2 separate regions of the Homo sapiens genome follow, and region 2 is linked to region 1. Evidence: fine-mapped expression QTL. Tissue or cell type: esophagus muscle. Region 1 holds a variant in brackets; the other region holds the start of a gene. All regions are shown on one strand. Distances are from middle to middle.

Evidence for each region. PIP is the estimated chance that this variant, and not a neighbour inherited with it, causes the effect.
Region 2: it holds the start of CEP250, and the variant in region 1 is fine-mapped to the expression of CEP250 in esophagus muscle (GTEx, PIP 0.98).

What each region holds. Positions count from the first base shown.
Region 1 is chr20:35,524,403-35,532,506 of GRCh38, forward strand. It overlaps C20orf173 (chromosome 20 open reading frame 173), which reads right to left and starts at 5,250. Exons shown (of 6, transcript NM_001145350.2): 1 at 5,157-5,250; 2 at 4,663-5,022; 3 at 4,299-4,477; 4 at 4,049-4,142; 5 at 3,831-3,882; 6 at 2,577-2,848. The coding sequence starts at 4,971. The coding sequence ends at 3,856. The variant TC/T (reference allele first, on the strand shown) is at 3,821.
Region 2 is chr20:35,450,804-35,458,907 of GRCh38, forward strand. It overlaps CEP250 (centrosomal protein 250), which reads left to right and starts at 4,795. Exons shown (of 35, transcript NM_007186.6): 1 at 4,795-4,948; 2 at 7,501-7,571. It overlaps MIR1289-1 (microRNA 1289-1), which reads right to left and starts at 3,294; the gene lies at 3,151-3,294. It also overlaps a transcript of GDF5 not described here. RefSeq lists enhancers at 3,730-3,779, 4,040-4,189 and a silencer at 4,210-4,589.

The DNA of each region.
Region 1 (8,104 bases):
ATTTTACAGTCAAAAAAGATTTACATACCCAAGTTACAATAAGCATAGTGAAAAGTTTTCTAAGAACTGAATTGTTTTGAAATTTAGATTAATTAAAATAAATTTAAAAATTCCTTCCTCACTTGCATTTGCCGCATTTCAAGTGCTCATCCATCATATTGGATGGTACAGAAATACAGGCTAATTTAATTCTAAAAGTCAACAATCTACTATTAGTGTTTACATTATTGTAACTAGATAAATATTTCCTATAGAGTTTGTAAATGAACTAAGACTACCTTTTTTTGTTCATGATAATTTTTTTTTTTTTTTTGAGACAGAATTTCGCTCTTGTTGCCCAGGCTGGAGTGCAATGGCATGATCTCGGCTCACTGCAACCTCTGCCTCCCGGGTTCAAGCAATTCTCCTGTCTCAGCCTCCTGAGTAGCTGGGATTACAGGCGTGCACCACCATGCCTGGCTAATTTTTGTATTTTTAGTAGAGACGGGGTTTCATCATATCAGTCAGGCTGGTCTCGAACTCCTGACCTCAGGTGATCCACCCACCTTGGCCTCCCAAAGTGCTGGGATTATAGGCATGATCCACTGTGCCCGGCCTTTTGTTCGTGGTAACTTTCTAAGAAAGGGTGTGTAGGAGATAAAACATTCTAAGTTTGCATGTCTAGAAACGCCATTATTCTGCTTGCAGGAGGTAGAATTGTGTTACTTTAAAAAAAAAAAATCTTTATGTTCTCACCCCTGATACTTATAAATGTGACCTTATTTGGAAGTAGGGCCTTTGCAGATACAATGAAATTAAAATGAGATCATGCTGGATGAGAATGGGCCCTAATCCAATGACTAGTGTGTTTATAAGATGAGGGAAATTGGCCGGGCGTGATGACCCATGCCTGTAATCCCAGCATTTTGGGAGGCCAAGGCAGGCAGGTCACTTGAGGCCAGGAGTTTGAGACCAGCCTGGCCAACATGGCGAAACCCAGTCTCTACTAAAATACAAAAAATTAGCCAGGCGTAGTGGCGGGCACCTGTAATCCCAGCTACTCGAGAGGCTGAGGCAGGAGAATTGCTTGAACCTGGGAGGCAGAGGTTGCAGTGAGCTGAGATCATGCCACTGCACTCCAGCCTGGGTGACAAGAGCAAGACTCCATCTCAAAAAAAAAGATGAGGGAAATTTGGAAACAGAAGACACAGGGGAGTATGCCATGTGAAGTTGGAGGTAGAGACTGGAGTGATGCCTCTGATGCAGGGCAGGCAATCCCCAAAATTGGGGCTTAGCCTGAGAGGGTTCTTGGCTTTGCCCTGATGCGATCCAGTGGTGTTAGCAAACTGTATTGAAGCAGCATTGCACAGCAGCAGCAGAGGTACACTGCTTCTTGTGGACAGGGCTACCCCATAGGCAGTGTGCCCAGAGTTAGCAGCTCAGCAGCAGCTCTGCAATCCTATTTATACCCACTTTTAACTACATGCAAATTAAGGGGTGAATTATGCAGAAATTTTCCAGGCACAAGCAGTCCTCCTGCCTCAGCCTCACAACATGCTGGGTCTGAGCCACTGTGCCCAGCCAAAAGTCTGATTTTTTATTCTTTGTTAACTGTAGCAGTTGGATTCTTGGTCTTGGTCAACAGACTGGTAAACTTCAGAGAAAAACAATTCGCCGGCTAAATATTTAGTAGTTTACAGGATGATGCAAAAGCTAGAGAACCAGGCTCAGTCTATCATGAGATGCAAAACATGGCCAAAGACTACCCCAGGAATGGCCCACCTGGAATGCCACCACTGCTGCCAACACAACTGGGCCCTTGACACTGTGGTAGTCTCATTATGGCAGATTCTCTTCAGCTCTTTCCATTAGGAAGAGCAGTTCATTTCCCCACTTCTTGGATCTTGGATCACTTTATGACTTGATCTGACCAATGGAATGCTGCAGAAGTGACACGGTAAGTGCTAGGCACAGTGACTCACACCTGTAATCCCAGCACTTTGGGAGGCCAAGGCAGTAGGATTGCTTGAGCCTAGGAGTTCAAGGCCATCCTGGCCAACATGGCAAGACCCCCTTTCTACAAAAACAAAAATTAAAATTAACTGGGTGTGGTGACATGCATTTATAGTCCCAGCTACTCAGGGGGCTTAGGTGGGAGGATCACTTGAGCCCAGGAGGTCGAGGCTGCAATAAGCCATGATTGTGCCACTCCATTCCAGCCTGGGCAACACAGCAAACTCTTGTCTCAAAAAAAAAAAAAAAAAAAAAAGCGAATTGGAACTGAGGCACCTAAAAAAACTGGGAACCTCAAAATGCTAAACCTTCTGTGAAAAGCTGGGCAAAAAAACAAAAAACAAAAAACAACCCTCACCCTCCGGCATGGGTGAAACAAGGAGGTTTACTTCTTTTATCGAAGTGGGTAAAGAGCCTCCCCCAACAACTCAAAGTCTGGGTTTGCACTTGGCATGAAATTGAATCTAAACTTATACCTCCTACATGATCCAGGGCACTAGGCAAAGAAATCAACTCAAATATTGCCCCTGAGATCTGGAAGGCACCTCTGGCCCATCCCTCCCAGACACTGTGGTTACAGGTAAGACAATCAGGCCAGGATTTTATTCAGTACCAGACTGATCTTACAATTTCCTCCTGCCCTTTACCCACCCAGAAATAGGATTTGTATGGACTCAGCTAGGCTGAGCTTGTGTGAATAGTGAGCTTGTCCACACGCTAGCTGATGGATGACTTCGATTTCTGCTCCTGCACTAGACGTGGGCAGTATTTCCTTGGAGCCCTTGGTCTGATTATCCTCCTTCCAGTGATAGAAACACTTTCCTTGCTATTCTGATCCAAATCCAAAGAGGGTGACCTAGTGGATAAGAGAGGGACATGTGCGTCAGCAGGCAGACTCCTGTCCTCACCCCTGCCTCCCTTCACTCAGCATCTAGGATGACAGGTTGTCCCTGGGAGCTGGGAGGAGACTGGAGCTCACCTCCAGGAAACAGACTCTGGACACTCTCCTAGAGTCACTGAGGATCCCAAAAAAGAGAATGTCAACTCACTTTTCCTCATGGTATTGGAGGAAGAGAGGGGAACCCCCAGGACGTAAGAGAAGGGCATTCCAGGCAAACGGAATGGTGCGAGAGAAGGCATGAGGCAGCTCATGTGTCTGGGGAATTCTAAGAGCCCATTATGGGAGCCTGGGAGACAGGAGGCAAGGGGAGGAGTCAGAACATGTATAGTCTTTTTTTTTTCTGAGATGGAGTCTCGCTCTGTCACCAGGCTGGAGTGCAGTGGCGCAATCTCGGCTAACTGCAACCTCTGCCTCCCGGGTTCAAGCGATTCTTCTACCTCAGCCTCCCGAGTAGCTGGGACTACAGGCATGCCTGGCTATTTTTTGCATTTTTAGTAGAGATGAGGCTACCACCATGCCTGGCTATTTTTTGTATTTTTAGTAGAGATGGAGTTTGACCATATTGGCCAGGCTGGTCTCGAACTCCTGACCTCATGATCCACCCGCCTCAGCCTCCCAAAGTGTTGGGATACAGGCATGAGCCACCACGCTTGGCCTACATGTAGAGTCTTGAAAGCCAGGCAGAAAACTTTAGACTCCATGCTGAAGGCATTGAGGAGCAGGAATTTTAAGAGAAGAAGATACAAGAATCTTTCCTGCCGGGGCACAGTTGTGCAAGACACAGAACAAAGCCTTGGGCCCCAGGGATGACCCTGACCCTGGTAAGACAGCCAGTTGTCCTGGTTGCACCTGGGGAGGAAGGGGGAGGGAACTGACCTGGGGCCCTTCCCACAGCAACCCACAGCCACATCCTACCCCTTTTCCTAT[TC/T]CCCCTCACCGTGTCTTTGCTATCTTCCACTCCACTAGGGAACCAGACCATCTTCCAAAATCTGAGAAAGAATTGGAGGTGGGGGAGTTTGGGCCACAAGACCTGGGAAAGTCCTGCAAGTGTCCCCAGTAAGCCAATAGAAGGTCTTCCCAGAGCCCCTGCTGTTACTCCCTGCAGTGACCTCCCCTCACCCCCACACAGAGAATGTCTGGGGACACCTCCATCACCTTATCACTTAGAGCATCTGAAGTCCACACCAGGTCAGAGAGCTTCCGCAGTAGCATCTCCAGCTGCATCCAGGAGCCCTGGTCGCTGGCATTCCTGGGATAGATGAAGCATTGTGTGTGGTTTGGTTCCCCACGTCCATCTCAAAGCCCTGGACTTGGGGCCTGCTTCATCTTGGGAAGGGGAGCAGAAACTGATGGAACTGTGGGGCAGGCCTGGCCTTCCTGCTCCCGCCCTCTCCCCAGCACCCACCTGAAAACCACGGGGTATTGGTCGATGTCGTTGCCAAGGCTGGAGCCCTGCGGGATCTGTGGGCGCCCCAACAGCACACAAGTCCCACAATAGAAATCAAAATGGCTCACCGAGAGCCTGGGAATCCCTTTAAACAGCTTCCTCCACAATTTCCCAAGCTCGCTCCCTGAGTTCATGCCCTGGAAACAGCAAGAGGGAGATTGGGGGCTGGGCCCAGGGGAGAGAAAACAGAGCTGGGTGGGTGAGATCTCCATCCAGAGGCTGTGAAGACAGGGCCAAGGGCAGGGATTTGGGCGGAAAGTGGGAGATGGGTGAGGCCCGGAAAGCATGGGGGATATGGCCGGGCCCAGTGTTGACCACTGACCAACCACCAGAGCACAGTGTCAGAGGTCATAGACTCTCTTGTCCTCATCAGGTACCCCATAGTCTTCCTGGAGCACGCATCAAGCCAGTTCCATTCGTCGGCTGTGTGGTGGCAGGAGGAGCAGTTGAGGGTCTCAGAAGGGCAGCCACACTTCCCGGAACTGAACCAAGGGCAGTCGCAATGCTGTGGTACCAAGTACATTCGTTTTTCCTGGGGTGCTGATTCAGGTGTCAGATCCAGATAGGGGGTCATCAGCCAGAGGATGAGCACCCAAAAGACCCACAGGACAAAAATCTGCCAGCGCTTCATGTCTGGCCCAGGCGGTGGCTCCCGTGGTGGGCCGTAGACTGGCTTCTCTACCTGTAAGGATGAGGGGCTGAGGCCACAGACAGCACCAGCTTCCCTCTGTCCTGTCGGCCTCCACAACTCCCCATCCCACCACCTTCCACCTCCTTCCAACCCCTCCTCTCCTGCCTCACTATCCATTTGCTCACCCTCAAAACGGTCTCTGACTGGGCATGGGGTGGAAGAGGCCAGGGCAGAGAGACAGCATGTGGCTAGTCCTGAGAGGGGAAGGAATACCTCAGTGGGGGCCTTGCTGTCATCCCAGTTATATCATAGATCTCATCACAAAGTACACATTGTGACCTCCCTCCTTTAGCCTGCCTGAAAAAAGCCACCACCCTACCCTTTCTCTGACACCGAAATGACCTCCACTGGATGTAAGATTCATGAGGACAGGGGCTGACCTAGTCTCTCTTCTTCACCTCTGCAGCTCTAAGACTTAGAATCATTTAATAAATATTTATGGGATAAATAAACAGGGGTTGAGAGGGAACTTTTTTTTTTTTTTTTGAGATGGAGTTTTTGCTCTGTTGTCCAGGCTGGAGTGCAGTGGCATGATCTTGGCTCACTGCAACTTCCGCCTGCCTGGTTCAAGCGATTCTCATGCCTCAGCCTCCCAAGTAGCTGGGACTACAGGCATGCGCCACCACGCCTGGCTAATTTTTATATTTTTAGTGGAGACAGGGTTTCGCCATATTGGCCAGGCTGGTCTCAAACTCCTGACCTCAAGTGATCCGCCCACCTCAGCCTCCCAAAGTGCTGGAATTACAGGCGTGAACCACCATGCCCAGCCGGGAACTTTATTTTTAAATTATTATTATTATTATTATTATTATTATTATTATTATTATTATTTTGAGACGGAGTTTCACTCTTGTCGCCCCAGCTGGAGTGCAGAGGCACGATCTCGGCTCACTGCACCCTCTACCTCCCGGGTTTAAGTGATTCTCTTGCCTCGGTTTCCCAAGTAGCTGGGATTACAGGTGCCCGCCACCACGCCTGGCTAATTTTTTTGTATTTTTAGTAGAGACGGGGTTTCCCCATGTTGGTCAGACTGATCTCGAACTTCTGACCTCAGGTGATCCGCCCGCCTTGGCCTCCCAAAGTGTTGGGATTACAGGCATGAGCCACTGCACCCCGCCCCAGCCTGGAACTTTAAATATACTTGTGTGTGATGCCCTCTCTGGAGTTGTGTGACATCAACTCAATCCTCTCTTGTAGTCTCTAGACCCCATATCCAACAGCCTACTGAATTGCCACTTAGATGGCTCAGAGACATCTCACCTGAATAAGCCTGAGACTGAACCCAGGATTTTCCCTGTAAACCAACCCTTCCCAAAACTTCTCTGTCTCTTTTGTTTTGTTTGAGACAGAGTCTTGCTCTGTCACCCAGGCTGGAGTGCAGTGGCGCAATCTCAGCTCACTGCAACTTCTGCCTCCTCCGGGGTTCAAGCAATTCTCCTGCCTCTGCCTCCCGAATAGCTGGGATTACAGGTGCGTGCCACCAAGCCCGGCTAATTTTTTGTATTTTTGGTACAAACGGGATTCCACCATGTTGGCCAGGCTGATCTCAAACTCCTGACCTCAGGTAATCTGCCCACCTCGGCCTCCCAAAGTACTGGGATTACAGGCGTGAGCCACTGCACCCAGCTTCAAAACTTCTCTATCTCAACAAATGGTTCCACCACGTACCCAGTTATTGAAACCAGAACTCATGTGTTATTAATTCCTCCTACTCCTATGATACCCAAATTCTTTTTTTTTTTTTTTTTTTAGGACAAAGTCTCACTCTGTCACCCAGGCAGGAGTGCAGTGGCACAATCTTAGCCCACTGTAGCCTCTGCCTCCAAGGTTCAAGCAATCCTTTCACCTCAGCTTGCCAAGATGCTGGGACTACAGAAGTGTGCCACCACGCTAGGCTTATTTATTTATTTAATTTATTTTTGAAACAGAGTCTCACTCTGTCGCCCAGGCTGGAGTGCAGTGGCACAATCTTGGCTCACTGCAACCTCTACCTCCCAGGTTCAAGTGATTCTCATGCCTTAGCCTCCCAGGTAGCTGGGACTACAGGCGCACAACACCACACCTGGCTCATTTTTGTATTTTTTTGGTAGAAACGGGGTTTCACTGTGTTGGCTAGGCTGGTCTCCATCTCCTGGTCTCAAGCAATCCGCCCACCTCGGCCTCCCAAAGTGCTGGAATTACAGGCGTGAGCCACCGAGCCTTGCTGATTTTTTTTTTTAAGTAGAGATGGGGTTTACTGTGCCAGCCCTGTCTCGAACTCAGCTCAAGTGATCCACCCTCCTCGGCCTTTCAAAGTGCTGAGATTACAGGCATAAGCCACTGAGTCTGGCCTCAAATCCATTTTTTAATTCGTTTCTATTTCTAAGTCATCTTCTTCATCTCCACTGCCACCCCCTTAATTCAATTGTAGTCTTGTAAAGATAGTAAAAAAATGAAAATGTTTGAGTTGTTTTTAAAGTTTAAGAAAAAAACAGAACATTTTGGTTTTTAAAAAAAATCAAAACATTTTATTCAATGGGATAAGAACAGTAAAATTCTTCATCTTAACTAGTGGAAAGCTGCACTGGATATTGTATAGCTTTTAAATCAATTCACCCAAATATCTGAGTAAGGTGTGTAGGCTAGTTAATTATATCATACCAACGTCAAGTTCCAGGTTTTGAAAAAGTACCATATGGGCTGGGCGCGGTGGCCCACGCCTGTAATCCCAGCATTTTGGGAGGCAAGGTGGGCAGATCACCTGAGGTCAGGAGTTCGAGACCAGCCTGACCAACATGGAGAAACCCTGTCTCTATTAAAAATACAAAATTAGCCAAGCATGGTGGCGCATGCCTGTAATTCCAGCTACTCGGGAGGCTGAGGCAGGAAAATTGCTTGAACCCGGGAGGCGGAGGTTGCGGTGAGCCGAGATCGCACCACTGAATGTGATTTTAGCTGGGCAAAAAGAGTGAAACTCTGTCTCAAAAAAAGAAAAAGAAAAATTACTATATGTATTATATGGTAAGACACTACCATTAAGAGAAAATGAAGGCCAGGCACAGTGGCTCGTGCCTGTAATCCCAGCACTTTGGGA
Region 2 (8,104 bases), 74 kb before region 1:
GTCACGATACTCCCTAAGTGCAATGGTATGGATTCTGCATCTCAGATTCTCATGGAAGCCCCCTCTCCTAGTCACTTGGTTTGAGCGGTTAAAAGTAATGTCCTCTTAATCTTCCCCAAGGAGGAATGGGGACTCATAGCCAGAAATATCTCCACACAAATTATCTATCCTCCACCTGCAGACCCCTTTATATTGGGATAAGGGATTTAGGAACTTTCAAACAGATTTTAGACTAACAGAAAAAAAAAAAAAAAAAAAAAAATATATATATATATATATATATATATATACACAAATATATATGTAGTGATTTAGCACCTCATTTTGAAATTTCACATACATATATATATATATTTTTTAATTCAGTTAGTCCAGACGGCCTCTTGGCATGGGCTAGGAGGAATATGTATAAATAATGAGCAAGGCTGGGTGTAGGAAAGATCCATATTATAGCCCTCAGAGAGGGTTTGAGTACAAGGCATATTTCTAGAGATGGAATTTAGGATATAAAGGAAGAAACCGTTCCCCTCACCTGGCAGGGACCAGGGTTGATTTTCTTTCAACTCATCCATTGCCTTTCCCTCCAATCCAGCCTCCTTTGAGAACTCCCCAGTCTGGTTCATCAGACAGGTCTGAACATGATCAGACTTGAATTGTCTGGTTTAAGTCTTTATAGGACTCTTGGGCCCCAAGCCAGGTGATAGGTAGGAACACCTGTTTGTACGTCTCAAATGCTCCATGCAGTTTGCAGAATGCGTTTTTTTTCTGTTTTTTTTTCCTTTTTTTTTTTTTTTCGAGACAGGGTCTTACTCCTGTCACCCAGGCTAGAGTGCAGTAGGGCCATCACGGCTCATTGCAGCCTCGACCTCCTGGGCTCAAGCAATCCTCTCACCTCATTTTTTTATTTTTTTGTAGAGACAAGGTCTAACTATGTTGCCCAGGCTGGTCTCCAACTCCTGGGCCCAAGTGATCCACCTGTCTTGGCCTTCTAAAGTGCTGGGGTTACAGGCGTGAGCCACTGCACCCAGCCATCTGCAGGTTGTGTAAGACTGATGTGGTGTACTCTTATGCCTACAGAACCACTAGGGCAGGGGTTTCTAATCCCCCAGGCCATGGACTACTATCAGTCTGTGACCTGTTAGGACCCTGGCAGCACAGTAGGAGTTGAGCAGATAAGCGAGCATTACCACCTGAGCTCCACCTCCTGTCAGTTCAGCAGCAGCATTAGATTCTCATAGGAGGCAAATCTTATTGAGACCTGTGCATGCAAGGGATCTAGGTTACACACTCATGAGAATCTAATGCCTGATGATCTGAGGTGGAAGTCTCATCTCAAAACCATTCCCACCCACCCCTGCCCATCCCTGTTTCACACACCAGCTAATTCCACTTTGGGCTTTGGCTCAGATAATATCCAGTTGTACTACATTATTATGTTTTAATACAATTTCCAACTTGTCCTTACTACATTGTATTATTATTCAATACTAGAACATAATCAATGCTCAATAAATGTCCACTGGGTAAATGAATAAATAAGGGAATGAATCCCCCTTTACAAACATCAAAGATTACTATTTGGTTTGGTATATCTTGGTAGTCTGAAACCTGTTTACTCCTCATAGTCTTTTTCTTTGAGATGAACTTTCGCTCTTGTTGCCCAGGCTAGAGCACAATGGTGCAATCTCGGCTCACCGCAACCTCCGCCTCCCGGGTTCAAGTGATTCTCCTGCCTCAGCCTCCCGAGTAGCTGGGATTACAGGCATGCGCCACCACGCCTAGCTAATTTTATATTTTTAGTAGAGATGGGGTTTCTCCCTGTTGGTCAGGATGGTATTGAACTCCCAACCTCAGGTGATCTGCCCACCTCAGCCTCCCAAAGTGCTGGGATTACAGGCGTGAGCCACCGCACCCGGCCGACTCCTCATAGTCTTAAAAAATATTGTCTAGTTTGCTAATGGATGTTATGTCATTAAACTTTGTAACACTAGGGCTGACTTGATTCATTCATTCAATGGACACTTACTTGATACCTACCATGTGTGTAAGACTGTGCTAAATCCCAGGAATAAGTCTCCTATCCACACAAAGCTTAAATTTTGGAGGGAATGTTAATAGGAAAACAAAATAATAAATGGAAAGTGCTATGAAAGAAACAGAAGACGGCCGGGTGCGGTGGCGCATGCCTGTAATGCCAGCATTTTGGGAGGCTGAGGCGGGCGGATCACGAGGTCAGGAGATCAAGACCATCCTGGCTAACACGGTGAAACCCCGTCTCTACTAAAAATACAAAAAAATTAGCCGGGCGTGGTGGCGGGCACCTGTGGTTCCAGCTATTGGGGAGGCTGAGGCAGAAGAATGGCGTGAACCCGGATGGTGGAGCTTGCAGTGAGCCGAGATTGCGCCGCTGCACTCCAGCCTGGGCGACAAAGCAAGACCCCGTCTCAAAAAGAAAAGAAACAGAAGACTATCCTAGAAAGTATAGGGTATTACTTTAGATAGCATGGTCAGGGAAGACCTAGTTGAGGAAGTATCATTTAAGCTGGGACCTGAAGGACAGGAAGGTACCAGCTAGGCCAAGAGCTGGGGGAAAAGTGGTCTAGGTAGCTGGCATAGTGTATGCAAACGCCCTGAGGCAGAAAAGAGCTTGATGTGCATAATATTTAGATTGTTTCATTTGTATTTCAAATATTGTTGCAGTGAACATTCAAGCACAATGCCTGTTGTGGGATTATTTCCCTAGGATGGAATCCCACACCACTGCTTCTTTGCATCGTTTTCTCTGTCTAGTGCCTGGAGATGTTCCTTTTCCCCTCTCTAGATAGTTTGCCTTTCAGAATCCGTGTCCTTCCTTCCCCTTTTACTCTCCACTTTCTCTATTTCTCAAATTAGCTATTAAGATCTTTTTTGTGTTCTTACAGGAGAAAGATAAAATATAGCTTTTAAGCGTTCCTTTCTCAGGTTACCTTTGGCTGTGGATTAACCTGAAGCCTTGCTGTTTCACTCGAGCTATCCACTCATTCACCCATTCACTCAGCACTTATTGAGCACCTATTTTGTACCAGGCCTTGTGCTGAGCGCTATAGTCAGATGACCAAATTACAGTCTCTACGCTCAAGCTCACAATCTCATGCAGCGCTTCCTAAAACGTGTTCCCAATTATCAGAATCACCCTGGGTACTTTCTAAAATGCAGATTCCTGGACTCCACCCCCGGTTTAGGGATTCTCTGGGGGTGGAAACCAAGAGTCTGCATTTACCAGTTTTGTTTTTAATTCCTACTAAAAATTGAGAACCACTGAGTGCAAGAGTGAGGCAGGTAAATGGAGTTTACAACTCTAAGAAAGTGCATTAACAATTTATACACAAGGCCGGGCGCGGTGGCTCACGCCTGTAATCCCAGCCCTTTGGGAGGCCGAGGCGGGAGGATCACGAGGTCAAGAGAGATCGAGACCATCCTGGCCAACATGGTGAAATCCTGTCTCTACTAAAAATACAAAAATTAGCCGGGCGTGGTGGCGGGCGCCTGTAGTCCCAGCTACTCGGGAGGCTGAGGCAGGAGAATTACTTGAACCTGGGAGGCAGAGGTTGCAGTGAGCCGAGATCGTGCCAATGCACTCCAGCCTGGCGACAGAGCAAGACTCCATTTCAAAAAAAAAAAAAAAAATTTATACACAAAATGCTACAGGAATAACGCATGGGTCCTATTGGGAAGAAAAAGTTCTCTAGAAGTCAGGCTTAAGCAGAACTGCAGCTCCGGGACGGATTAAGTCAGGTAAAGGTAACACTCTGTGCAGAGACATGCAGACAAAACCGAGTGTTGAGTAAGTAACTCGCCTGTAAGTGTTATGCTGCCTGAAGCTTCTCGGAGCGTCTGAGCAGCAAGGTGAACAACCCTCAGAAACCGGTCGCGCTGCCAGTATTATCGCTAACCAGTGGCAGCGAGCCCCTTTGTTTCTCGGCAGTTGTAATTGTAGTCTGGTTTGTAGGTGGAGCTGTGCGCAGGCGCACCTAGAACCAGGTGACCTTGCACATGCGCTGTATGTAACACTGAAGCCAAAAGCGAAATGATTGAGGGCAATTTTTCTTTTCTGCTTCCGAAATGTCCCTTTCGCGAATCCAGAGACCCTGACCGTCCCCATTTCTGGCTAGGGATCTTATAATTCTTAAAATAATACCCCCTTTCCTTCAGGGCCTCTCTAGTAAGTCGGCTGCCAATACCCAACATGGCGGGAGGCCCTGCGCCGGCTCAGTCTGCCTATAGGTGCAGGACTTGGAGGGGCGGGCCCCTCCCAAAGGGCGGGAGTTTGGGGGGGCGGGGCCTGGCCCTCTGCCTCGGGGTGGGCTCCGCCCCCGTCCCCCGCAGGGCCTTAGCAGCGGCTGCCGCAGCTCAATCGCGGAGCAACTAGCCGGGCGTCTGCGGGAGCCGAGCGTGGTGAGGTGGGGCCTCAGGGGCAGGTGGGAGGTGCTCGGGTTAACCGTCCGAGGCCCGGAGACCCGCCCGTCTAGGGCGCCTGAGGGAATCCCGTTCGGGCAGCGGCCTCTTGTTACCCGGGAGGAACCCGAGGCCCAGAGAGGGGCTGGGACGCGTCGTTAGGGCCCGGGGCCCGCTTGCCTCAGCTTCTTGCTGCCGCCAGCACGCTAAGCTCCAGTCGGCGCCGAAGGAGAGCTTCCCGACCCTCGTGTCCAGTAGCCGCAATCCCAGGCTGGGAGGGTGAGGCGCCGCGCTCTGCCGCCCCCCCGCCCCTCGCTCCCTGTGTCCTGGCGGATTTGCACGTAATCTATCCGAAAGCCCAGTCCCACCCGCCACCCGACTCTGGAGCTCCCATTCTTCAGGACCCTGCTGAAGTATCGCTTCTCAGCCGCCTTCTCCAGGCGCAGCTGCATTCGCTTCTCGGTTTTTGCACTCGCTGTGCACCGAGTTACTTTCCCGGCCCCTCGTTGACACCGTAAGCTCGTTCGTTAGATGTTATGCCTTGCCTTTTTCATCTCTAGATCCCAGGGCCTAGCACGTGATGATAATAGTCATGGCTTACTGTACGGAATGATCACAAATTGTCAGGTGCTACTGAATGCATTACACATAAGGGCCCATTTATTTATTTATTTAGAGACGGAGTTTCGCGCTTGTTGCCCAGGCTGGAGTGCAATGGCGCGATCTCGGCTCACCTCAACCTCCGCCTCCCGGGTTCAAGCGATTCTCCTGCCTCAGCCTCCCAAGTAGCTGGGATTGCAGGCATGCGCCACCACACCCGGCTAATTTTATGTTTTTAGTAGAGACGGGGTTTCTCCATGTTGGTCAGGCTGATCTCGAACTCCCGACCTCAGGTGATCCGCCCGCTTCGGCCTCCCAAAGTGCTGGGATTACAGGCGTGAGCCACCGCGCTCAGCCAAAGGCCTATTTAATCTTCCCAACAATCCTATGGGGTGAGTTCTTTCTATAGCTTCACGTTTTACCCATGAAGAAACTGAGGTATTCATAGAAAAAGTAATTTGCCAGGAGTCCCACAACTAATAAGTGGATGGAGCTGGGAAACTGTCCCCAGGGCATTTGATGACTTGACTAGATTGCCTTTGGGTTTAATCAACGTCTGTTGAATTGATCTTTACTTTGGCCCTGGGAGTTATTGGAGGCTAGGCTTGTGATCAGTATTTTACCGCGAAGGCTTAGAAAGGAGAACTGGTCCCAGATTTATAGAGGTCACAACAAAACCAAGGCTACTGGTACGCCCTCTGTTCCTTTAGTTCTTCTATCTTTCTTTGCTCCTTTTCGATCAGAAAGCTGCAGACATAGGTGTCATTATCGCTCACTATTTAAGAAGTGCCCCTCACAGAGCTGTGAGTTCGTAGTCCATGCTTTAACTAATGTAATGTTCATGCTTTAACAGCTAATGTAATGGAGAGAGTGTAGAATTTGGAATCAGATTGGGGTTCAGTCATTGCTCTGCCACTGACCAAGCTATAAGTTATATGCCTCCCCCCACTTTTTTTTTTTTTTTTGAGACCTGGTCTCAGTCACCCAGGCTGGAGTGCAGTGGTGCGATCTGGGTTCACTGGAACATCCTGTCTCCCAGGTTCAGGCGATTCTCCCGCCTCAGCCTCCTGAGTAGCTGGGATTACAGGCGCCCGCCACCGTGCCTGGCTAATTTTTGTATTTCTAGGAGAGATGGGGTTTTGCCATGTTGGCCAAGCTGGTCTCGAACTCCTGGCCTCAAATGATCTGCCCAACTCAGCCTCCCAAAGTGCTGGGATTACAGTTGTGAGCCACCACACCCAGCCTGTTTTTTTGCTTTTTATATAGGTAATAGAGCTGTTAGCATTTTGCAAGACCATTGGTGATAATATGGATCATGTTACCTAATGTCCTATAATAGTCAGTAATAATGGGCACTTGTTATAAACCAGGCTGTGTTTTAGGTAGGAGCTGGGAATACAGCATTCGATAAAACAATGCTTTTGCACTTGTGGAATTTGCATTTTGGTAAGTATATTACATAATAATTAGATAGGGACAGAAAAAGCATGGTAAGGTAAATAAAAGTACTAGTGTTATGTGGAGAGGTGATAGTATTTTATTTATTTATTTATTTGAGCATCTTGTCCCAGGCTGGAGTGCAGTGGCGTGATCACAGCTCACTGCAGCCTCGAACTCCTTGGCTCAAGCAGCCCTCCCACCTTAACTTCCCAAGTAGCTGGGACTACAGGTGAATGCCACACAGCCAGCAATTTTTTTTTTTTTAATAGAGATGGGAATCTCCCTGTGTTGCCCAGGCTGGTCTTGAACTCCTGGCCTCAAGAGATCCTCCCACCTTGGTGAAACTCTGTCTCTACTAAAAATACAAAAAAATTAGCTGGTCGTGGTGGCACATGCTTGTAATCCCAGCTACTCAGGAGGCTGAGACATGAGAATTGCCTGAACCGGGGAGGCAGAGGTTGCAGTGAGCTGAGATCATGCCAGTGCACTACAGCCTGGGTAACAGAGCCAGATCCTGTCTCAAAAACAAAACAAAACACTGGATGAGATTACCTTGGAAATTAATGGAGATGGAGAAGAGGTCTGAAGCCTTGAGGTTTCCAAACTTTAGATACTGGGGAGATGAGAAAAGGCAGCAAAGGAGACTGAGTGGGAGAGGCCAGAGGTTGGAAGAGAGCAACAGAGAGGCCCCACATGAGATTTAAATAAGGAGCTGCATGCTAATTTGTTTTTTTCAGGAGTAAGAAACAAATTATGTCTGTACACAAATGTCTATACTGTAGTTTCTTTCTCAGTAAATAAAATGTTTGTGTCCTCAAGTATTTTTCTGTTTTTGCTTTAAGTGACAAATTCTATTTAATACCATTCTGCATCTTAGTCCTTGTAGCATTTATGCCTCTATTCCAAGTTTAGGTGGTAGTGTTGCTTCTCTTTTAAACTTTATTTAAATACTCCTTTTGTAGTATTTTGGATGAGAGAGGATCAAATACATAATTTATCTCACTCTTCTGTCACTTTCCACTCCAGGTTCACAGGTGGCTGTTGGTCTTTAGTAAGGGTGCTGTCTTCCCTGTCTGATCCTTAGCAAAAGTAGGAAGGTAGGTCTTGTTCATTTCTGTACCACTGTGGCAGACTCCTGATACTGAGTTGAAATTCATGAGTGTTTATGGGATAAATTAATGTACAAAAGAAATGAATCTTTCCCTTTTTCCTGCAGTAATGATAACATTGGCTCAGTGGTTTACAGCTTAGAAGTACACTGACACTCATTATCTTATTTAGATGTAATCCAATTTGTTAGTTTGCCAGCTACTGCTCTTTTCCCTTTCTCAGGCACATTGAAATTTACTTTCCCTTTGGGGGCTCTGCTAGTTTATTCCTAGCAGATCTGATCTGGCAGTGTGTTTGTAAAAGGATGCTGAACTGTGTCTTGAGGAAGCTCAGAATGAAATCTGAATTTCAGAAAGATTCCTGAGATAATTTTTCTCTGTCTCTTCTCTTTTATTCTTGTTTTAATAAATTTTAGTTTTATGAGGATTGTTTTGGTTTTAAAAAACTTTAAATCATTTTTTAAAACTATTTTTTACAACAATTTTAGGGTTACAGAAAAATTGCATAGTACAGAGAGTTC